7 linked regions of the Homo sapiens genome follow. The protein of the gene in region 2 interacts with the protein of the main gene of each other region in a pairwise test. Each region holds a gene or a part of one and is shown on either strand. Other genes may lie near its edges. The genes, in order: CADPS, TTC3, KANSL2, ATF7IP, CKAP2, LRPAP1 and DLEU7.

What was found.
Region 1: the proteins of TTC3 (region 2) and CADPS interact in a two-hybrid assay, tested with the Homo sapiens proteins (one large-scale study listed by BioGRID and IntAct).
Region 3: the proteins of TTC3 (region 2) and KANSL2 interact in a two-hybrid assay, tested with the Homo sapiens proteins (one large-scale study listed by BioGRID and IntAct).
Region 4: the proteins of TTC3 (region 2) and ATF7IP interact in a two-hybrid assay, tested with the Homo sapiens proteins (one large-scale study listed by IntAct).
Region 5: the proteins of TTC3 (region 2) and CKAP2 interact in a two-hybrid assay, tested with the Homo sapiens proteins (one large-scale study listed by BioGRID and IntAct).
Region 6: the proteins of TTC3 (region 2) and LRPAP1 interact in a two-hybrid assay, tested with the Homo sapiens proteins (one large-scale study listed by BioGRID and IntAct).
Region 7: the proteins of TTC3 (region 2) and DLEU7 interact in a two-hybrid assay, tested with the Homo sapiens proteins (one large-scale study listed by BioGRID and IntAct).

The regions. Positions count from the first base shown.
Region 1 is NC_000003.12:62,872,617-62,876,807, reverse strand, and holds the start of CADPS (calcium-dependent secretion activator 1), read left to right. Parts: upstream 1-1,391; 5' UTR 1,392-1,778; coding exon 1,779-2,219; intron 2,220-4,191.
Region 2 is NC_000021.9:37,079,754-37,083,253, reverse strand, and holds part of TTC3 (E3 ubiquitin-protein ligase TTC3), read right to left. Parts: intron 308-3,500; exon of another isoform or gene 1-307. UniProt on the Homo sapiens protein: E3 ubiquitin-protein ligase which catalyzes the formation of 'Lys-48'-polyubiquitin chains. Mediates the ubiquitination and subsequent degradation of phosphorylated Akt (AKT1, AKT2 and AKT3) in the nucleus.
Region 3 is NC_000012.12:48,652,711-48,655,474, forward strand, and holds the end of KANSL2 (KAT8 regulatory NSL complex subunit 2), read right to left. Parts: intron 2,351-2,764; coding exon 2,231-2,350; intron 1,821-2,230; exon of another isoform or gene 1,672-1,820; intron 1,466-1,671; coding exon 1,334-1,465; 3' UTR 501-1,333; downstream 1-500. UniProt on the Homo sapiens protein: Non-catalytic component of the NSL histone acetyltransferase complex, a multiprotein complex that mediates histone H4 acetylation at 'Lys-5'- and 'Lys-8' (H4K5ac and H4K8ac) at transcription start sites and promotes transcription initiation.
Region 4 is NC_000012.12:14,368,682-14,372,181, reverse strand, and holds part of ATF7IP (activating transcription factor 7-interacting protein 1), read right to left. Parts: intron 1-3,500. UniProt on the Homo sapiens protein: Recruiter that couples transcriptional factors to general transcription apparatus and thereby modulates transcription regulation and chromatin formation. Can both act as an activator or a repressor depending on the context.
Region 5 is NC_000013.11:52,472,478-52,474,802, reverse strand, and holds part of CKAP2 (cytoskeleton-associated protein 2), read right to left. Parts: intron 975-2,325; coding exon 719-974; intron 1-718. UniProt on the Homo sapiens protein: Possesses microtubule stabilizing properties. Involved in regulating aneuploidy, cell cycling, and cell death in a p53/TP53-dependent manner.
Region 6 is NC_000004.12:3,505,768-3,508,422, forward strand, and holds part of LRPAP1 (alpha-2-macroglobulin receptor-associated protein precursor), read right to left. Parts: 3' UTR 1-2,655. UniProt on the Homo sapiens protein: Molecular chaperone for LDL receptor-related proteins that may regulate their ligand binding activity along the secretory pathway.
Region 7 is NC_000013.11:50,840,893-50,845,066, forward strand, and holds the start of DLEU7 (leukemia-associated protein 7), read right to left. Parts: upstream 2,801-4,174; 5' UTR 2,755-2,800; coding exon 2,296-2,754; intron 1-2,295.

The sequences.
Region 1 (4,191 bases), on a different chromosome or scaffold from region 2:
GAACATCCTTTACTTCTTGAGAAGAATTAAAAAGTGAGGCTGCAAAACTGTCACAATCCCCGCACTGCTCAATTTTTTTTAAATTTTGTGTTGTTACCAAATGTGTGATGGCCACAAAAGTTGTGTCCTTGAGGTATGGTGGTGAAGTCAAATATAAGCCATCCAAGTACTTAACTCAAAAGATCAAACAGAATTGTTGAGGTTAATGTGAAACCAGTTGTTCTGAGTTCATCTGCAGGTCTCAAACAGGTCACTTTACTATCAAAGCTAGTAAAACTCATGGTAAATTATAAAATACGTAAAGACAAAAGTGATTTAAACTTTAAACTCATGCTACACTATTAAAATCACTCCCACGAGTATCTACAGATAATTAGAGAACTAGAAAATACATAAATATAGGCGATGAAGTGGAGAGGTCTCTAGATAGCCTAAGTTCTGAAGGTGGCTGGCTGGTGGTTTGTTTTCATCCATCTGCGTGCGGGTCGCAGGTTACATTCAGCACGTTGGCCAGCTCCCTCGTTTACCAGGTTTACTGGCCTAAGTGAAAGGAGCACGGGGAAGGCAGGCACCATCTGCTGCTTTGTATTAATAGTTTACCCGAGAGGCAGGGGTGAACAGAGTGCGACAGTCGACGCATTAGATGTTGACGCCGCTGAGTTCTTAGGGTGTCTTTGTCTGATCGCGGGGTCCCCAAGCCTCCACCGAGCCAGAATGGAGGGAGGGTTAAGCAACCAGAAACCCTTCTATTTTTCTGGTAGGCTCACCTCAGCAGAAAGCATTCCCAGGTCTTGGGAACTGAAGAAGATTCATCATAGATTTTGGGGGTGGGGGTAGGCAAGGTCGGGGGCGCTACATAAATGGTTGAGTTGCCTGGTCGAAACACCAATCCATTCAAAATTTGATTCACTTTTATTTTAATTAGACTGGGCGCATGCGGAATAAGTTGCTGGAATCAGAGTTTACACAGGTGGGACAAACACGCTGCCCAGCCCCCACGCCCCCCACGCCCCAGGTGTAAAGAAGCCTGGGGAAAGGAGATGGACCCTTTCTTTCCCGTATAAGATCTCACGGACTTCCTCCTCCTAAGTAAGACCTCTCGATTTAGCGTCTCCAAACAGCCCGCTCGGCTGGTTTCTGGATTTCTCCCTCCCCCAAGAACTTTTTGTCCGCGGGAGGGGAAAAGGGGTTGAGGCAATGAGAGCCAGATATCAACAAAAAAATTATCCACGAAGCCGGCAGGGGAGGAGGGTGGCAAGGTATTGGGGTCAGAAGTACTGAGGCTCTGAGGACGCTCCGCGCTCTCCCCCCTCCAGCCCTCTGCAGCAGCCCTTTACGCCGCGGACACGGGAGAGTTAAGCCAATAAACACGTAAGCGCCGCTCCCTCCCCAATCGGCAAGATGCCTCTTCGGCTCTTGGCTGCATCGACAGCTTGCAACACTCGGCATCTTTTCTGGAGGCGCCTCCTTCAGCAGCCGCAGATGGCATCCGGCTGCGGGCTCGGGGCTCGCAATTGATTCTCCCCCTTGCCCACCTCGAGTCCACGGACGCACCTCTCCCTTCCCCTCCTCCCTTCGCGCTTCTGGGTCTGAGCCCAGCTCGCGACCGCCGGGCAGAGGATCAGTCGCGGCGGCCGAGGCTGAGCAGCAGCGCTCTCGCTCCCTGACCTGGGGAGAAGCGCCCACCCGGGAGAGCTGATCCCCGGCTGCCTCCAGCGCCCCCCACCTTTTGCACTCCAAGCCGGGGGCTCCAGAGACCCCGCTCCCCAGGCGCCACTATGCTGGACCCTTCGTCCAGCGAAGAAGAATCGGATGAGATCGTGGAGGAGGAGAGCGGCAAGGAGGTGCTCGGCTCGGCCCCGTCCGGCGCGCGCCTGTCTCCCAGCCGTACCAGCGAGGGCTCGGCCGGCAGCGCCGGGCTGGGGGGCGGCGGCGCCGGCGCCGGAGCCGGGGTGGGTGCAGGCGGCGGCGGGGGCAGCGGCGCGAGCAGCGGCGGCGGGGCCGGGGGGCTGCAACCCAGCAGCCGCGCTGGCGGCGGCCGGCCCTCCAGCCCCAGCCCGTCGGTGGTGAGCGAGAAGGAGAAGGAAGAGTTGGAGCGGCTGCAGAAAGAGGAGGAGGAGAGGAAGAAGAGGCTGCAGCTGTATGTGTTCGTGATGCGCTGCATCGCCTACCCCTTTAATGCCAAGCAGCCCACCGACATGGCTCGCCGGCAGCAGAAGGTAGGTGCGCCTGGGAGGCCCAGGGAGCAGCACCCGGACGTCGCCAGGCGGGCGGGGTGAACAATGGGAGCTGGCGGCGCAGCTGGCGAGGAGGAGCAGGAGAGGTGGAGACCGCGCCCTGGGGAAAGGGCTACGAGGCCCCCTCCCAGCGGCCGGGCTCGCCCAGGCCCAGCCCAACCCAGCCTGGAGCGCTCCTGGAGCTGACTGGGACCGGCGAGGGCCGCGGAGCGCAGCGCCGCTTGCTCGAGCCCCCCCAGCCCGGGAGCGTTGGTGAGCGAGGCAGGCAGGTCCCGCTTTGTGGACCGAGAGGCTCGGGGAGTGATTTGCTGCCCGCGGCGCCCAGAGAGGCCTTGCTCGCTTGCAGGGCTCCCAGCGCTCTCCAGCGGCGGGCGGCTGCGCTCAACTCCGGGCCCGCCCTCCTGGGCGTGCGTTCGGCGGGCGGGGGCAACGGCAGGTGGGGGCGCCGAGGTGGAGGGAGAAGAGCGTCTTGGAGCAGCGCTCCGCTCGCTGGGGCAGAGAGCAACCGCAGGGGCAGGCGGGAGAAAGCAAGCCCAGAAGGCGAAGCTTCCCGTGACTCTGCGAAGGGCACCCTCCTCTCCCTGCCCGGGTCAGCTGATCACCGACTAGCGTCGCCAAAGTGTCCTCGGGCACTGCTTCCTTATGGCTGGAGTTCTCACCAGTCCCCCTGACCCTTCCTCACTGACCCCAGAGCAGGGGCACGCCCTCTGGTCCTTCCGTCCGGGTCAGCCCCTCCGCCGTCCTGTCTTTGACCCTATTCTCCTCTTCCCAAGGTGACTTCGCCGCCACCTTCTGGCTCGCCTGGGTCCTCCAAGCCCTGCCACTGCTGCCTTGATAAAGTACAGCTGCAAAAAGCTTCGCAATCTGAGGCATCAAAAGCTTTTTCTGTCTGAGGCTGGGGCAAGGCTGACATAGCTCTGGGCTGCCTTTGATGTTAAAAAAAAAAAAAAAAAGGCGCCTATTTCTATCAGCTGTTCTTTAGCTGGAGAAAGGGATGAGGGGTACTGCAAGATGAGGGGCAGTGGCGGGGGGTGGGGACAGAAGAAAAGCAGGCAGGAACCCAGCTGGAGTGAGTTAGTGAAGAAAGTCAGCGTTCTGTTCTCTTTTAAATAAATTTGCAGCACTTGAGCTATCAAAAAAGCCAGTCAAGCCCCACACAGAGGCAGTGTGAGGCCAGTCCTAACCCCATCAAGACTGTGAGACTAGTGTCTGAAAATAGTGAATCTTTCAGTTGCTGCCATTTAAGAACAAATTACATGTTGCTGTAGTAGCATTAGGTTTTCCGTATTTATCCACCCTTACCTTGAGTTAGCACAGATTTCTCTGTTTGTTTTGCTTACATGTGTACACACACCACCCAGCACTGATGATTTATTTCAGCCATCACGAGCTTGGATATCAGTTTCATTAAAAGATAAAACTGATTTCCAGGGTGAGAGACAGGAGGTGGGTTACACACAAGACTCTCCATCTTTATCTGTGGCCCCTTGTTTTTTCAATTCGTATTTTTGACTGCAGTAGAGCAAAAGTATCCTCAGAGAAGTAAAAGTTTTTGGGATATTATTTTAAGGCTGGATGTTGAGTCCACGGGGCCTAATAGTTCACATTTCAGTTTGGAATTCCTATTGTAATTGTGCCTTTACAGCATAGGAACTTCAACCTCCAAAATCTATCCCAGTAATAACAGCACCAGCCAAAAATATTCCATTCCTTTGACAATGAAAACTGTGACTTTAAGTGTTAGGTCGAAAGGGGTGGGGGAGATGTCTAGAGACATTTATCAAAGTCTCTAGAGGTCTGTCCTTTAAATAGTTGCTTAAGTCCAGAGCTAGCATGGAGAAAGAAATCCCACAGAGACACAGTTCTTCTAAACAGAAACTTCAGTTACTTTAGAGATTATTATAAGGCCAGATTTTTCTGATCTGATTGTATGCTTTACCTGAATCCACTCAAA
Region 2 (3,500 bases):
AACCTAGAAGCCAGTCATACCCAACTGCTTGTCCTTCCTAAACAAAACTTATTCTGCAACCACCTAATGTCTATTAGTTCTTAATACTCAATTTCAGGAAGCATTTCCTGATCTTCCCACTACCATCAAGTTGATTTTTGCACCTCTTCTCTGTAAACAAGAGCACCCTGCCCATGTCTCTGACAGCAGTTTTCACATTGTTTGACCATCACAGGTTTATCTCTGCAGGGTCACTATGGATCCAGAGGATATATTGTGCAATCCATTTGCCATCTGTACTGCTATTTACTTAATACTTTTCTTTAGGATAACTCAAATCTTAACTTAGATGTAAACTAGTTTTAATGGAAATGTTGGTATCACCAAGAAAGCTTGCTTGGTACCATAAAATTTTTTATAATACAATCAAACAAAAATATACTACTAAAATTAAATATTAAAATAAAGAGCTTCTGATCCCATCAGTTATGGTCAACTATACACTCTGGGGGAATGTACTGTTGGGAGGAAAAAGGTATATCCTAGATTAAAAAAAAAAACACTTTTTGGATGTTTTTGCTGAGCTCATAGAAATAGGGGAACATGTGAAGGCACCCTCTCCACGCAAAAGCAACAAACCTTGAGCTAGAAATTAAACCTGGCTACAGTTTAGTGCTACAAGTAGTGGTGCCAAGAGCAGTAATAGGATCAGGACACTGAGCCCTGGGCCAGAAGCAAAATGTAGGAACTCAAAAGTGATGCCAGCTAAACTTTCTGGCTCCCAGACAAAGCTGATAGAAATGCTTTCAGAAAGCAAGCATCCTCAAATTAGACTCTCAAGATCACCACAAAGATCAAACAGAAGTTCATAATCAATGATCACCAAACACATGAGGTGACAGCTACATTGAGGAGAGACAACAGAAAAAAAAACAAAAAAGCAATAAATTTAGACATCCCCCTCCTCAAGGATATCAGACATTGGGAATGTCTGATATAGTCTACAGAATAGCTATAGAGTCACAAAAATCAGCATATAACATGAGAACATGAAGAATGACTGGACATATCAAAAAAGAACCAGGCAGAACTTTTAGAAATTAAAAATGCGGCCGGGCATGGTGGCTCATGCCTGTAATCCCAGCACTCTGGGAGGCCAACGTGAGCAGATGACGAGGTCAGGAGATCGAGACCATCCTGGGTAACACGGTGAAACCCCGTCTCTACTAAAAATACAAAAAAATTAGCCGGGCGTGGTGGCGGGCGCCTGTAGTCCCAGCTACTCGGGAGGCTGAGGCAGGAGAATGGCGTGAACCCGGGAGGCGGAGCTTGCAGTGAGCTGAGATCGCGCCTCTGCACTCCAGCCTGGGCGACAGAGAGAGACTCCATCTTAAAAAAAAAAAAAAAAAGTAATTAAAAATGCAATTGTTAAAAGAAAAAAAAGAGACAGGATGGGTTACAGAGGATATTAGGCACAGTTGAAGAGAAAATTGGTGAACTAAAATATATGCCTTATGAAATTATCCAGCACTGTAAATTCTGGTAAAGAGAAACAAAGAGATAAAAAATATGAAAGATAAAGAATAAGTGATCTGGAAACAGTTTAGTGTATATATATATCCAGTTAAAGTTCCAGCAGGAGAGAAGAGACTAATGAGACATAATATTTAAAGAATACAGGGCTCAGAAACTTCTAGATCTCATGAAAGACAAAATGCAGAATCATGAAACACATGCATCCAAAATAGGATAAATATAATCTCTATCTAGACTTAGAAGTGAAATGATGTAACACAAAAGACAGAAAATCCAATGTAACTAAAAGAAAAATGATATTTTCTTCAAAAAACGCATAAATAGGCTGGGTGCAGTGGCTCACGCCTGTAATCCCAGCACTTTGGGAGGCTGAGGCGGACAGATCACGAGGTCAAGAGATCAAGACCATCCTGGCCAACATGGTGAAACCCCATCTCTACTAAAAATACAAAAATTGGCCAGGCATGGTGGCAGGTGCCTGTAGTCCCAGCTACTTGGGAGTCTGAGGCAGGAGAATCGCTTGAATCCAGGAGGCGGAGGTTGCAATGAGCCAAGATGGCGCCACTGCACTCCAGCCTAACAACACAGCAAGACTCCACCTCAAAAAAAAAAAAAAAAAAAAAAAAAAAGGCATAAATAAAACTGGCAGCACACTTTGTATAAGCAACAGCAGAATAGTATTCCTACCCTACTGACAGAAAAGAAACACCAACCTACAATTGTACATCCATCAAAATGATCTGTCAAGAACAAAGGTAAAATAAAAATACTTTTAGATTTTTTTTAATATCTAAAACTGAGTCAAACACCAACCAAGACACCTGGAACATAACCAATTAAAAGACAGAAGTTGTCTGGTGAGATTAAAAGAAAAATCCAGTAGTATGTCCCTTATAAGAGACACTTAAAATGTAAGGACACTAAAAAAAATCAAAGTAAAATGAAAGAAAAGAATATTCCAGGTAAATTAGCACCAAAAGAAAGACGGGATCAGACAAAAAGCCTCTAAGACAAAGAAGCAAACTTAGAGAAGATCACAATATAGTAAAGGTTCGAGCCACTAGGAAAAAAATGTTAAGCTTGCATGTAGCTAATAAAAGTCTCAAAATACAGAAGAACAAAAATTGTTAGAACTACAGGAAATCTGTTAGAAACTAGTAATGGTGGAATATTGCAACACACTTCTCTCAGTTAATGATAGGATAAACCAAAATTAATAAGGATAAAGACTATCAGAACAACACAAATAACAAGCTTTACCTAATAGACACTTAACAATTACAGAATATATACTCTTCACAAGTGTACACAGAACAGTTCTAATAATTCACTATGTACAAGGCCATAAAGCAAGGGCAAAAAAAAAAAAATGCTAAAAAGATAAAATATTCTCTGGCAACACAAGTAAGAAATCGATAATTAAAGGAAAACAATATAGACACATTTGAAAATTTAAAAATGTCTAAGTAACTCATAAGTCAAAGAAAAAATCAAAATAGAAATTGTAAAAATACTTAGATTTGAAAGTTAATGAAAACACTATAAATTAAACTATGTTAGATAAGCAAAAATGAACTTTGAGGAAGTTTACAGTCTTGCATGCTTATACTAGGAAATCGGAATGGTTGAAAATTAATATTAAGTGTGTAATTTAAGTGAAAAAAATAGTAAAATAATAAACTGAAAGTAAAATGAAATAATAAAAGAGAAAAAAGATCAATGAAATAAAAAACAAATAATAGAACAAATTAGGCCAAAAGTTAATCCTTTGCCAAGATTTTAAAAATGGACAAACTTTTACTAAGACTGATCAAGAAAGAGAAGTCAGACATAAATAATATTCAACATGAGAAAAGGGGAACACATATACAAATAAAACAGAGATTAAAAAGAGAATTAATGCCATACCACGAGCGGTGGCTCACACCTGTAATCCTAGCACTTTGGGAGGCCGAGGTGGGCAGACCACTTGAGGTCAGGAGTTT
Region 3 (2,764 bases), on a different chromosome or scaffold from region 2:
TGTAAGCCATTCTGTGCCCATTTCAGTTCTTATAGAAAGTAATCTTTTGCCCTCCTTGTCATAATGCAGTATAGAAATAGACAATTTCTAGCATAGGTACCTCAACCCTAACTGAACTTCTATTTTAATCCTGCTCTAAGATTCAGTGTCAAAACGATCTTGACAATACCTATCTATGTCTATCTTAGTGATCCAGCATCAGGCCCAATTTCTCTATGTTTTAAGTATATTCCTACCACTAGAGAATTCTGAGATGGTATTAGCATTATTTTTTTAAAAATAATTATTTAAAATTTAAAAATATAGACACAGGGTCTCACCACATTGCCCAGACTGGTCTTGAAGTCCTGAGCTCAAGTGATCCGCCTACCTCAGCCTCCCAAAGTGCTGGGATTACAGGCGTAAGCCACCACGTCTGGCAGAGATGGCATTGGCATTAATCGTGAGAAATGGGAGTGGGTGTAGGAGACACAGAGTGGAGGGTAAAAAGAAGAAAGATATTTGGAACTGATGGGCTTTAATAAGTCCTGCCCCTTTTCATTTACTTCTTCCTTCAAAGCAAAACCAAAATGAGCTACTGAAGATTTATTTACTTCTTGGGATGGAAGTATCATCTGTCCCAACTTCCCTTTCCCATCAGAGACAGGTCCCCAAAACCGCGAAAAAGAAACTATATTCTCAAACAAAACATGCATTCAATTCAGGTGACTGTTTGATATTTTCATAACATTTTCTTTAACATTTAATAGAAACTATATACAATAAATTTTTACTATATTTTACATAAGATAGCAACCACAGAAATTTACATAGGTTAAAAGCAAGACGGATAAGGAGGACCCAGTCCTGTGGGCTGTTTTCTCAGAGGATAAAAAGCCAGAGTTCACCAGGGAAAGGGGTTAAAGACTGCCCAATTAAGTAGAGGTGAAGAAAAGCTAAACTGCAGGTCTTCAGATAGAGATAACCGATATTAGGGCCATCAGTATCTCAAAGACACCACTCACAAAGACAGCTCCCACCTAGCTACTTAAGTGGATTTCTATCCATGACTTGGGAAATCCCATTACAAAGATGTCACTTTCCTTTTAGGTATAGTCCCAAATAATCCCAGAAGCTTTGATAGGGATTATCTCTCTTTCTCTTCCTTGCCCTGAGTGGGAAGAAACCCACGGTCCACGTCCTCAAAATTTGGCTTTACGTTTGACTATAATACTCAATCCAGAAGAAAAACAAGGTAGTCTGGGTTGCCTGTGTTTTGTGAGAGATGATCAGAAATACTTCTTTGAAGAACGAGAAATTTAAATCCACCAAAGTAAAATGGTTCCCCAAACTATCAACTAATAGAAGTGGGTTCTGGCTTCCCATTTGCAGTAGCCAATCCACTCTGAGACAATGGTGCAGAGGCTTTCTCAGAATTTCGAGATCCCTGGGATCTGCACCCATCTCCAGCCATCTGCATCTGGCCCTGTTAAAAGAAATAAAGGCACTTCAGTTAGTAATTCATTCACTGTGGTCTGAAGTATGAATCTGACTTATCAGTGGCCACTTAAACTAGCAATAAGAACAATACAACAGAAATTAATTCTGGACAGATGCTCTTCCCATATTAGCTATCCTAGTCCCTTGGAAGAGCCTATTCCTGAGCCTCTTCCAATGGGATGGTGAGCTGTAGGTTGTTTCTTCCAAATGAAATAGCCATTCCCTACTGAGGTCCCAGAACAGCCAACAGACCACAGGAAGACAGTCCTTTAGGCCTCTGCTTGAAACCAACAGCCACAGTACAACTGCTGGTCTTCAGTCAGGGCCACTGGAATTCTACCCAAGGCTCACGGACAGAACTCAAATCACATTACTTTACTGGTCCTTCTACAATGAGAACAATTTCAGTGATGAACTCTCCCTCAGAAGGTATGATTTCCCTAGATTCCTTGTCTCAAGCTTTTATTTAAATAAATGTATGTCCTACTCTGGGATATGAGGATCACGGGCCATTAGGTGTTCTAAGAGCCCATCTGGAGAACTACAGCAACAAGGGTACACAGGAGCAGAGTAGGGCATTTTTAAAAGTGCTTTGCTTATATGGTATTCAATAAGTGAGAGACATGTGGAGCATCTTTATACTAGTGATGACACCCCACTCCCCTCCAGGAGCACATGCTATCTAGCAGGGAACCCTCTGCCTGGCCAGGTCACTACATGAGGGAAACAGGTGGGACTGTTCTTCACTTGCCAAAATATCCACTGGGTCTTCAGCAATTTCTTTGACTAAATGATCTTCAAGGGTTAGTGAAGGATCAAAAAGCAAAGGTGAAGGAGGACACTGCATACCATCACCCACAACATCCAAGTCCTAGAAAAAAGAGAAAAGCCCATCAGCAATACCAAGGGAAACAGTAATAAAGTTGGCATGTTTTTCAGCAAACTTTAAAGCAATACTCTGCTGTCTCCCTCAACCCTAGCCTACCTTTAATAAAAAAAAAATTTTACAAGAGCGTCCAACAAATGAAACAAGATCCAAAAGCACTGAGAGCTTTTGCTGCCAAGTGTAAAACATAGACCAATACAGTAGATTAAAAAACAAAATTCTGGCCACCACACCTCTAATCCCAGCACTTTGGGAGGCCAAGGTAGGCATATCACTTGAGCCCAGGAGTTCAAGACCAGCCTGGGCAACATGGTGAAACCCCGTCTCTACAAAAACTGCAAAAATAAGCCAGGCGCGGTGGCACACACCTGTAGTCCCAGCTACTCTGGAGGTTGAGGT
Region 4 (3,500 bases), on a different chromosome or scaffold from region 2:
ATCTGAGAAAGAACATGGCAAAGTAATGTTTAAATACTCTTGGCCTCTCTAATAAAATATAAGGTCAAACAAGCAAGAAGTTTAAAAGAGAGTTCCACTAAAGGATAGGCAATTTCTAAGTACTCTAGGAAAGTGACAAGGACTATGGTCTCTGAAGCTAATTAATGACATTAAGGTAATCTGTTTAAATAATGTTAAAACATCACCTAATTTTTCAATCAATAATATGCCCCACAACTGTTAGAAACTCAAAAGGCAGGAACTTTATTCTCAAGCTTCTTTATACATGTGACTCCCTTGAAAAACAAGGTATGCAGCCAATGCATAAATTTTCCATAGGCCTCAAAACCTAAAAGAAAAAATTATAATAGAAATCCTTCTAAACTAAATCACACGCTCATTTCCCTTCTGAAATAGGTTAAATATAACAATATTCTCTGATTCAGAATCATTAATAAAATCATCAATTAATAATGAACATTCTATAACTACTGATTCAGCTCTGGGAATACTGATTCCCAAACTAAATAGCCTCATAACTAAGTTTATAAATTATTGCTTCTAACAGTAGAAATATAACCCTCCTTTACTATCATGATGCTGGACATCATTTCTTTTCCCTACCAAAATGCATTTCTCAAGTAGCACTTCTAATTTTTTACTCCTCATCTGTTATAGTCTAGAAACCAAGTATAATAATAAACCAGAACTAGAAAAAGTTCTCAACTTTCACAAAAAAGTAAAATATCTAAGCTGTTATAAGCAGTGTTGCTTGAAAAAGACCCAAAGGCAGGGATTTTTCATTAAAAAAGATAAACTGCTTAAGAAAGGCCAATAATATCTTAATATTTTATATCCATTTTCTAGATTTATTTTCATAAAGCCAATAATATTTTATCATTTGAGTTCTATATTTCCGTGATTTCTTCTTTTCATTCCTCCACTAATTTACAAGTTTAGTTCAATAAAAATGTTATTTTGGCAATAAACTGACTCCTGAATCAATTATTTAAAAGATATAAAGTAGAATTACAGCTGAAATACATCCTTATTAATCAAGATAATCTTTTTCAATGCAATCAGCATAAAAAAGAGATTTAATGGAAAATAAATTTATTCTAATAATTAGGGAAACATCCTTATCAGAAAATATAATAATTTAATGATACCAAGGAAACTAAAATAAAAATTTTTTATCTTTATTATGAGATTAAGCCTCACCCTGGCCAGAAAAGGAGTAAGGTACCTTTTCAAATTCCTCCATCAAAAAAAAAAAAAATTGTCTGTGTTTAACAAAAAAGGATTTTGATTTCGAATATTGTACAATACTTTATTTTGCGACTTATTTTTCCCACGTCTAACTTCATACTGATACTACTTTTATGTCATCATGTCCTAAACCAGATTGAAAACAGAAATATAACCTTATATTGTCTCCTAATTCATCCCTACTAAAATTATAGCTGCACCAAGAAAACATCCTCCTGAAAAGTCACAGATACCACAAATTCTCCCAGAGTTCCTAGGAAATAGTGCTTTTTGGTAGTCTACAGGAAGTGTGTAATACCGATGAATTAAAAAAAATAGTATAAGGTTATAAATTCACCCAATGTAAATTTAATGGAATTGTAACCAAAACCATTAGCTGGCTTTTTTTTCTTAATTAACCAAATGAACCTAAAGTTGATCTGCAAAAACAGTCAAAATCAGCTATGAAAATTGTAAAATAGAATTGTGAGTGGGTATTGGATTTTATATAGGATATAGCACTACAAACACATATTTAAATTGTGTACCGTCCTACAGCAAATAAAACAATGCAATAATGCTCTAAGAATAAGGCCCAGATACAGTCATTGTCAACCTCTGTTTAAACTTTATATCATATATTCTTTTGAGAAGCTAATGAAAGCTATCACTTTTTCCCCAGAAAAATGCACATAGGAGGCCAGGCGCAGTGGCTCACACTTGTACTCCCAGCACTTTGGTAGGCCGAGGCAGACGGATCACCTGAGGTAGGAAGTTCGAGCCAGCCTGACCAATATGGAGAAACCTCGTCTCTACTAAAAATACAAAATTAGCCGGGCATAGTGGCACATTCCTGTAATCCCAGCTACTCAGGAGGCTGAGGCAGGAGAATCATTTGAACCTGGGAGGCGGAGGTTGCGGTGAGCTGAGATCGTGCCATTGCACTCCAGCCTGGGCAACAAGGGCGAAACTCCATCTCAAAAAAAAAAAAAAATGAACATATGCAGACTTACATAAAATTGTGTATATCAAGGGATCGGTGGAACCCCTAGAGGACAATGGACCCCAGGTTAAATATACCTAGTATATGAATCAGAATTGTTTGCTACCAAAGCAATAAGAAATGGATCAAGTCTATGGAAACTAGATATCTGGAAAAAAATGGAAACTAGCAACTTATCTTAACACACAATATGTCAAAACACAGATATGTCCACATAGATGTAAAAGTATTTTTTAAGTTTATTAAAACTTCCAGAAAAAGTTCTAGTAAAAAATTAACAAAACACATGAACAAGGCTGTGCACGGTGGTTCACACCTGTAATTCTAGCACTGTGGGGGCCAAGGCAGGCAGATCACCTCAGGTCAGGAGTTCAAGACGAGCCTGGCCAACACGGGGAAACCCCGTCTCTACTAAAAGCAGGGCATGGTGGTGCACGCCTGTAATCCGCTACTTGGGAGGCTCAGGTAGCAGAATCGCTGGAACCCAAGAAGAGGTTACAGTGAGCCAAAATCACACCACTGCACTCCAGCCTGTGAGACAGAGCTAGACTCCACCTCAAAAAACAATAATAATAAAATAAAATACAATATAAACATACAATTCACCTTACAACAGGTAATATTTTCTGGGCAGACAAGTGCTGTAGAAATCATAAAGGAAAAAGGAAAGGCAGTACAGGCTGGACATGGTGGCTCATGCTTGTAATCTCAGCACTTTGGGAGGCTGAAGTGGGAAACTCTCTTGACCCCTGGAGTTCAAGACCAGCCTGGGCAACATAATGAGGCTTTGTTTATTAAAAAAAAAAAAAAAAGAAAAAATTAGCGGGGTGTGATATCCTTCACCAGTAGTCTCAGTTACTCCAGTGGTGGGAGAATTGCTTGAGCCTGGGAGGTCGAGGCTGCAGTGGGCAGAGATCACTGCCACTGCACTTTAGCATGCGCAGCAGAGCAAGATCCTATCTCAAAAAAAAAAAGGGGGGCAGTACATTTTACTACATAAAAATGCAAAACTTCTTAACATATACAATCATAAACCACTTAAAAGGTAATTTTAAAATTACTGTGACAAATATTAAAAGCTAAGGACCCCAAAGCCGTAAGTAGCTGTTACCAACAAATAAGAAAAACAGTAACACTCATCATAGAAAAATACACAAAAAGTCAAACAGCTAATTCACAGAAAATGAAAAAAATGCATATATAAAACAATAACAAATTCAACTTCACTAGTTATCAAAAAAAGTTAATG
Region 5 (2,325 bases), on a different chromosome or scaffold from region 2:
GTTATAAGCAGGTAAAAGCATTTAATTGTCTTTTAGAGAGGTACTATAAGCTCACCGAAGTGAGAAACTTATCCTTTTCTCAATTTGTCATTACAACTTGTATACAGTAGATACCTGAGTATCTGTAGAACTGGCTAATTCCTGAAAGCCAAAACCTACTGTTATTAATAACACACAGATTAAAGTAAATTCAAATAAAAGTTTTCTTTTTCAAAATGGCAATAGTTAGGGAAAGTAAATACAGTATTTAAGAGGTGAAATGTTCTAATGACATTCTATTTGTTTAAAAACTTTTCTGTTTTCTTTTTTGTTTTGAGACAGGGTCTCGCTCTGTCATCCAGGCTGGAGGACAGTGGCATGATCTTGGCTCACTGCAACCTCTGCCTCCTGGGCTCAAGTGATCCTCTCACCTCAGCCTCCCAGGTAGCTGGGACTACAGGCACACAGCACCTTGCCCAGCCAAAATTTTTTTTATTTTTTGTAGAGATGGGGTTTTGCCATGTTGCCCAGGATAGTCTTGAACTCCTGGGCTCAAGTGATCTGTCTGCTTCGGCCTCCCAAAGTGCTGAAATTACAGGCGTGAGCCACCATGCCCGTACTGAAATTTCTATATTAATAAATGGTAGCTGTAATCTGAAGCTATCTCAAAGATTTTTAAATGCCGTTATTTATTATCTCCAAGCATGAAAACAAATCATGGTACATTTTAAAAGTTTACCTTTGCAAGTATGGCGTAGTAGACACATTATATTTAATTAAGCAACTTGTCCTCGTTTCTGTATTGGGGGTTTTAACATCATGGGTTGGATCTTTTGTTTTGTTGTCTTGCTCTTTTTCACAATCTTGAAATAGCAAATTTCTATGAAGTTTACTCTCCATTTCCAGTTTTTCTGGATCTACATCAACACCTGTATCTTCAATACTGACTTCTTTGACTTCTTCCTTGCTTGCACAAGACTTCTCCATATTTTCTCCTATAGAAAATACATTTATAGATTAAGCTTTTGGCTGAATTTTAAGAACAAAATCAGAAGACATTAAAGTTGTTCCTAGTTGGCCACATTTTCAAAATAAAAGAACACGATTGCCATCTCTGAACCATTCCTTTTCCTCAGCAAATACTGCTGCCAACTATATAACAAATACTATTATAAAATGAAATAAATGCTATATATGAAATAAGAACAAAGGATTATTAAAACCCACAAAAAGAAACAACTAACTTTGCCTGTGGTATAGGGAGATGGTTAGGGAATGCTTCACAAGCGAGATTTAGGCTGGGTCTTAAAAATGAGTACTTGATCAAGACCAAGGAAGACAACCTTCATATGGCACATAAAAGAAAATGATCTATTAAATTAACATAACATTAAAGAGCCAGTGTGTTTAGAATATAGGGTAAGGAACAAGGTTAGGAGTGGGAGCAGGAGGTATTGAGCTTAGATAGGTAAACAAGAGCTAGATTGTAATGAGCTTTATATGAAAGAAGTTTGGTAAAAAAAATTCACCAGAGAGCTAGATTGTAATGAGCTTTATATGAAAGAAGTTTGGTAAAAAAAATTCACCAGAGACAGACATAATTAAATTTGGTCAATGTAAAGGACTGTCTAGAATGGCAGAGAATGAAAAGTAACAATCTGTGATGGCAAGAAGACAAGGTTGTTGTAATAGCCTAAGTAAGTTAGGAAGAGATCAGATAGGAAAGGAAGGGTCCAATCTGAGAAATATTTCTGAGAACATTTTTTTTTTTTTTTTAGAGACAGGGTGTCTGCCGTTCTGTCACCTAGGATGGAGTGCAGTGGCATAATCTTAGCTCACTGCAGCCTCAACTTCCCAGGTTCAAGTGATCCTCCTGCCAAAGCCTCCCAAGTAGCTGGGCCTAAAGGTGTGTACCACCATACCCAGCTAATTTTTACTTTTTGTAGAGATGGGGTCTCACTATGTTGCCAAGGATGGTCTCGAATTCTAGACCTCAAGCGATTCTTCCACCTTGGACTTCTGGTGTTGGGATTATAGGCGTGAGCCACCACACCCACCCAAGTCAGAACTTATTAACAAATGAATACATGACTGTGTAGGAATGAGTGTGCAAATGTATTAGGAGCGTCTTATCCAACATTTCTTAAGAGTCATAAATGCCAGAGAAGAGTTTTTTCTTTTCTTTTTTGGGAGAAAGGGATGTTGGGTATGGGAAAGGGATACTGGGCATGGGAAAGCAGTGAGGGCAGACAAAGAGTTCAAAATAAAACATGTTAGGCTGGAAATACTTGTGAGACATCCTGGTGAATCCATTGAGCTGGAAAAAAAAACCTCTGAATTTAATTA
Region 6 (2,655 bases), on a different chromosome or scaffold from region 2:
CTGGATTACAACTCGGCAAGATGCTGGGGAGGTTTCTGTTAGGGTGGAGCTGGAAGCCATCAAGTTCCTGGGTAGAGATGACCTTTCAGATGGATGCTGACCCAGCAGGCTGGGCTGAGCTGGGACCAGCTCTTCCACTGCCCTGCTCCGAGCCTGCTCTGGTCAAGGTGGGCAATGCTGCCCTTCATGTACTTCCAGCCCCGGAGGAGCTGAACCTAGAGATACCTGGAAACCCAGCTTAGGGAAGTAAAAAAAAAATCACTGCATCTCATAATTATTGAGATATTTTTAAATTTTCAAGCTTTTTTTTTTTGAGACAGAGTCTTGCTCTGTTATCCATGCTGGAGAGCAATGGCACGATTTTGGCTCACTGCAAACTCTGTCTCCCAGCTTCAAGTGATTCTCGTGCCTTAGGCTCCCGAGTAGCTGGGATTATAGGCAGATGCTGCCACCACTCCTGGTTAATTTTTGTATTTTTAGTAGAGATGGGATTTTGTGATGTTGGCCAGGCTGGTCTCAAACTCCTGGCCTCAAGTGATCTGCCCGCCTCAGCCTCCCAAAGTGCTGGGATTCCAGGCGGGAGCCACCCACACTTGGCTCAAGCTGGGTTTTTTTTTTTTTTTGAGGCGAAGTCTTGCTCTTGTCCCCAGGCCGGAGTGCAATGGCGCGATCTCGGCTCACTGCAACCTCTGCCTCCCAGGTTCAAGCCATTCTCCTGCCTCAGCCTCCCAAGTAGCTGGGATTACAGGTGCCTGCCACCATGCCTGGCTAATTTTTTATTTTTAGTAGAGATGGGGTTTCACCATGTTGGCCAGGCTGGTCTCAAACTCCTGACCTCACGTGATCCGCCCACCTCCACCTCCCAAAGTGCTGGGATTCCAGGCATGAGCCACCGCACCCGGCCGGCTCGAGCTGTTTTTAAGAGGATATATCCTGGTTTGCTGCTGTGTAGTTTCCCCAAAGTCTCAATTTGATGAGAAAATAGAAAGACCACTAGAACGGAAAAATAAAAAATAAAAATTAGATTTCATCAAACTGGAAACCTTTGCTTTCCAAAAGATAACCATTAAGAAAGTAAAATAGCAAGCCAGAGGATCGGAAATTATTCACAACACATATCTGAGGAAGGACTCACACCTAGACCTGGGAATAACGCTAAGACCAGGCTGGGTGTGGCGGCTCCCGCCACCTGTAATCCTGGCACTCCGCGAGGTGGAGGCAGGTGAATCACTTGAGACCAGGACTCCGAGACCAGCCTGGGCAACACAGCGAGACCCAGTCTCTATAAAAAAAACCTTTTCTTTAAATTAGCAGAGCATAGTGATGCATGCCTGTAGTCCCAGCTACTCAGAAGACCGAGGTGGGAGGCTCGCTTGAGCCCAGGAGTTTGAGGTTGCAGTGAGCTATGATCGCACCACTGCACTCCAAGCCTGTGCGAGAAAGATCCTGACTCAAAAAAAAAGACAAGATTTCCAAGACCCAGTTTTTTAAATAGGCAAAAGAATTAAGTAGGCCCTTCCCAAAGACGCCACCCAAATGGCCAAGAGCAGACAAAAAGGTGTCATGCCTCTGGCACCAGGGAAGTGCAAGTTACTACAAAACGAAAACAAAAGAATCAAATGGATTTAATTGTCTTTTTGTTACTGATTTCCTCCTCAATTGCACTCTGGCCAAAGAATGTGATTTGTATTATTTACCTACATATCATATATTTATACATTATCATCTGCGAATTACTGACATTTGCTTTGGGTCCTAGTACCTCGTCCATTTTTAAAAGATTCCATGCGTGCTTAAGAATGTTTTCTCTAATGGGCATAAGTAGACCAAGTTTTTAACTGTATTATCCCATTCTTTCATATTCTTCATCAATGATCTAAGCCTCTATCAAAAGAACCTAAAACAAGGACAGCAAATTGAACACAAAATAGGTAGAAGAAAGGAAATTCATAAGAAAAGAGCAAAAGTCAATGAAAAAGAAAACAATAGAAAAAAAAAATCAATGGACCCAAAAGTAGGTTTCTTTGGGGAAAATATCTGTAAAAATGATAAACTCTTAGCTAGTCTGATCAGGGGGAAAAGAAAACACAAATGGCCCAGAGCAGGAATGAGAATGGACATCACTGCACAGAGGATACTGTGAATGATTTATGTAAATTGTTTTGATAACTTAGATGAAATTCTGCGACAAACCTATCTTTAAAAAAATGACAAAGGAAGAAACAGAAAATCCAAAAGCCTCATGTCTTTTTTTTTGAGACAGAGCCTCGCTCTGTTGCCCAGGCTGGAGTGCAGTGGTGTGATCTCAGCTCACTGCAACCTCCACCTCCTGAGTTCAAGTGATTCTCCTGCCTCAGCCTCCAGAGTAGCTGGGATTACAGGCATGCACCACCACACCCTGCTAATTTTTATATTTTTAATGGAGACGGGGTTTCACCATGTTGACTAGGTTGGTCTCAAACTCCTGACCTCAGGTGATCCATCCACGTTGGCCTCCCAAAGTGCTGGGATTACAAGCGTGAGCCACCATGCCAGGCCTCATGTCTATTTTTAAAAATCAAGTTCTTAATGAAAAACCTAAGCAAAAAGAAAATGGCAGGCATAGATGGCCTCACCCATCACATCTCTATGAAACAAATAATGCCAATCCTATAC
Region 7 (4,174 bases), on a different chromosome or scaffold from region 2:
AAGGTGTGAGCGGGTTGAGGTTTGGATGAAGAAGGCTTGAGGAGGATGGAAAATGTTTAGAATCAAAAGTCAATTAGAAAGGGCTAAAAGGATTTCCAAGTAGAAGTGACTGTGGCATTAAGCTAAAATGGCATAGTTTATAGTGGACTGCTTCCAGAGCAGAGGACACGGGGTTTAGTCCATTGCCACTGAGTTGGGTCAAGCCCTTAGACAGCTGTCTTCTGACCTGACTTTCAAACTGAAACCTACCCTTCTGTGATTTATCCAGGCTTCTGTGATTTACCTACCCTCTGCTTGCAAGACAATCCAAGGTCCTCAGCATGACACACAGGCCTTTCCCTAACTGGCCCCCATTTGTGTCTCCAGCATCAGTTTTTGCCTTCTGCCATATTGAACTTAACTGTAGTTCCTCTAGAGCCTCAGTCCCTTTCAGTGCTGCTGGGCCTTAACCAAAGTATTCTCCTGAAATATTTTTCCCTTTAATGTCTGGAAAATAACATGTATTTTTTTTTTAAAGGCTGCCTCCTCTGAGAAGCCTTCCAGGGTCACCTTAGGTAAAACTGATTGTCAGTCTCTCTTTTTGCCAGCCTTACCTATGCCCTGTATGTGCTACTGACATCACAAGTCACTTCATATTTCATCTATTTTAAAATGCACTTTTATTCACATTTTTTAAAAATCCCTGAAATCAGCCAGATGTGGTGGTACAGGTTTGTAGTTGCAGCTACTGAGGAGGCTGAGGCAGGAGGATCACTTGAGCCCAGGGCTCGAGGCTGTAGTGTTATGATCGCACCTGTGAATGGCTACCACACTGCAGCCTTGGCAACACAGGCAGACCTTGTCTCAAAAAAAAAAAAAAAAAAATCCCTTAAATTAGCATGTAACTTATAATCAATGGTGTATCATAGTTCAATGACAGGATTAAAAAAAATTTTGGTGATACCAAAAAAAAGTACATCTTACATTGGAGAGCATTTGGTGAAATGCAGCTTCATTTTCTAACTTTCTAAAGTGAGTGTAGGAGTGCTTCTCATCTTGCCTCCCACCCCACCGCCCCCGCCACCTTTGGCAGTGTCTGGAGACATTTTTGGCTGTATCAACTTGCGGCGAGGAATATGCTGCTGGCATCTAACAGGTAGAGGCGAGAGATGCTGCTAAACATCCTCTAATACACAGGACAACCCCCGACAACAAAGAATTAGCCAGGTCAAAATGTGAATAGTACAGAGATTGAGAAACCCCTACGTAGAGAAACAATACCTATTTGGGTATATAATAGGCTTTATTATGTTTGATTTTAAATAAATCTTTTACAGTGTATAGTGCAACTTAATGTATAGCAACTTTTTCCAAACCTTGGCTTGTACAGAATAGCAACTCTTGAGACATATTCTAAGCTCTCCTCATCACCCCTCCCCAACTCCTTCTGCTAGATGCCCCAGGGAAATAAAATACAGCAATGCTCCTGGTCAAAATCTGAAAGCCAGAATGTCTCAGAGAGATTCGTGACCTTAAACCAATTAGGTTAGTTAATGGCAAGTCCAGGACTGAAACCCAGACCCCCAGATTTCCGCAATCTCACTCAGCCTGGGAGACAGCTGCTCCCTTCCCGGGCTAAATTGGCTAACACAGTTTGGTACCTTAAGAGGAAATGTGCCCTACCTATATGAGCTGGGTGACTTAGCAAGAGTTTAGCATTTAGTATTCACGCTTTAACACCCGGGACCCACCCAGCTCTCACCCCACTTTATGAGAATGTAGGTTGACTCTGTAAGACCCCTTAGCTCTGTGGGGAATTGGATTTATGCAAAAAATAATAGTGATTCATGAATGTGAAGGAACTTTAAATAAATGTAGATGATTTCATCATACAAAAGGCAGAAGGGACTTAGTAAGTGTATTTAAGGCTCTGGAGGAAGCGTTATTAATTTGGAAAGTGGGTGGGGGGAGCTGTCCTCTATCCCTACAAGCTGCACGTGTGGAAAGGGCCTTTCTAGCGCAGGAAGCTGATTTATGTGAGAGAGGAAGGAGTTCCAGGGGGAGGTTTTGGCAAGGCAGTCCCCACATCTCGGTTGTGCCAGCCAGGCGGGCCTCAGGTGGGTCTGGGGCTCCCTGCCCCTCCTGCTGAGTCCCCAGAGTGTCCCCCGCCCCCTTCCTTCTCCCACTGGGGCTGAATCACAGTGGGCAGCAGTGTTTGGGATCCTGCGATCCACCCATCGCCATCCCAGCAGCCCCACCCTTGGAGGATGGGAGGTTACCCTGCACGCCAGAGGGGATGGCGGGGGCCAGACTCACCTTCAGGTGAATGGGAAAGGACCGCTCCTGCTGGAGGGGCCCCAGCAGCGTCTGCTCCACGCTGACCAGCTCCGAAGTCGAGTCCACCACGCGGGCCAGCGCGCTGCGCATCGCCATCTGGGCCAGGGTGCAGGGCCCGCGGTCCCGGGGGAAGGGCAGCAACTCGGCGCCCCCCTCAGCGCCTCGCACTACCTCCTCCTCTGGGGAGTTCGCCCGCGCCGCGGTCCGCCGACTCCTGGTCCCCACGCCCCCGCCCCGCTCCTCGCGCCCGGGCCCCGGCCGGGCCCGCGGCGGGCCTGAGCGACGGGCTGGAGCGGTGGACACGTGGTCTGGGTCCCGCGGGTTCCCGGGGGCGACTGGACCGTCCCCCCAGCCCCACTCCTGCTGCAGCAGCTGCAAGGTCTGCAGAGCCACCATTTGGTGGCTGATGGAGGCCACTAAGGGCGCAGGGCTGGCCATCGCCTCCGCTGGCGGCCCGGCGCGCTCCGCGTGCAGGTGGAGCAGCAGCGAGGGAGGCGGGGGCGTTGGGGTCGCCAAGGTCACATTTTCTAACCCGCGGCTCCTCGGCCTCTGGGTCTCACAGCGTGTGTGGTCGGCCCCGCCCCCGGCTCTGAATCGGTGACCCGTGCTGGCCTCTGCCTTCGCCTGAAGTCCGAATCAGGCGTGTTCTGACCCAAAGCTGCCTGAAGCGCTGCTCGGTGTGCACTTGAAAATCAGCGAAATGCTGAGCGTTGCTTCTTCCCTCTCTCCAGGGCTTTGATGAGAAAACGTGCTGCTTTGTGCGGGCGCATCCATCGGCGGGGATACCCCGCCCCCACCTCCTTCGAAGGATGCCTGCCAATGACCACTGAGGTCTGGGAGGTGGGGGTGCAAAAGACCCACTCTAGGGCAAAAGTACGAAGGGCTCTAGAAAAACTTGCAAAAGGAAGACTGTGCCTTTCCCAACCCGAGGGGAATTTTCAGAAACTTGTTGAAGCAGCCTTCAAGGCCTTGCATCCCCCAAACAAAAGAAGGAGGAGTTGTGTATCTGGAAGTTCTGCTCTTCTCTGCTTTGCTGGGTGCCACTTGAGCACCGAGAGCCTGGTGGCTGAACTAGCATCAGCAAGCCTCAAGGCCCAGGCCTGGCACTGCCCAGAAAAGCCTAAATGTTTTTTTGTGACACTCCCAAAAGACTTAGGCAGCAAGGTTGAAGTTAATCCTTTTATGAGCCATGAACTTAGGGACAGCTGTACAAATAGTTGCTGTTTTTAATTAAACCCAACATGGCTACTTCCTTAACTTAGAAAAAAGCGACTAGCAATGTTATGCTTTGATAGATTGGAAACCATGGGTGTGTGATCACACTTAAGAAAATAGAAGATATTTGAGAGGAGTGGTATGGAAAACCAGTCCGGAGCAGCATTGTTCCTGCTTGCTTTCTGCAAGGAAAACCACTAGACAACCCAACAGCCCAGTAAAGCCAGGGCAATGGTGCATGCCCACGACAGACAGGTGGGCCCTGGCAGACCTGAGGATGGAATTGCATTACTCCTTTGGGAGCCAGACTGCACCCTTGGTGCTGTGCAGATCTGGAGAGGCTTTTGAGTGAAAAGGCCACACTGGTTAGTCTGTGAGCACAAAAGGATCATCAGAAGAGATATGGAGAGGGATGTTGGGTCCTTTAAGGTTTCCTTAACCCTGGGATAGTATGACCCCATATAATCCTCCCAACTTGCCAGCAAAGGTTCCTTCTCCTTCCCAGTGCTTTCTTCGCCTATGAAAACGAATCTGAATGCCAAGGTAAAGAAAACCTTTCTTAAACAAAAACGAGTATGTTCACACTAATTATAACTAAGTAAAAATGCACGTCTGTGCATTGACAGAGAGGAAATTACTTTGG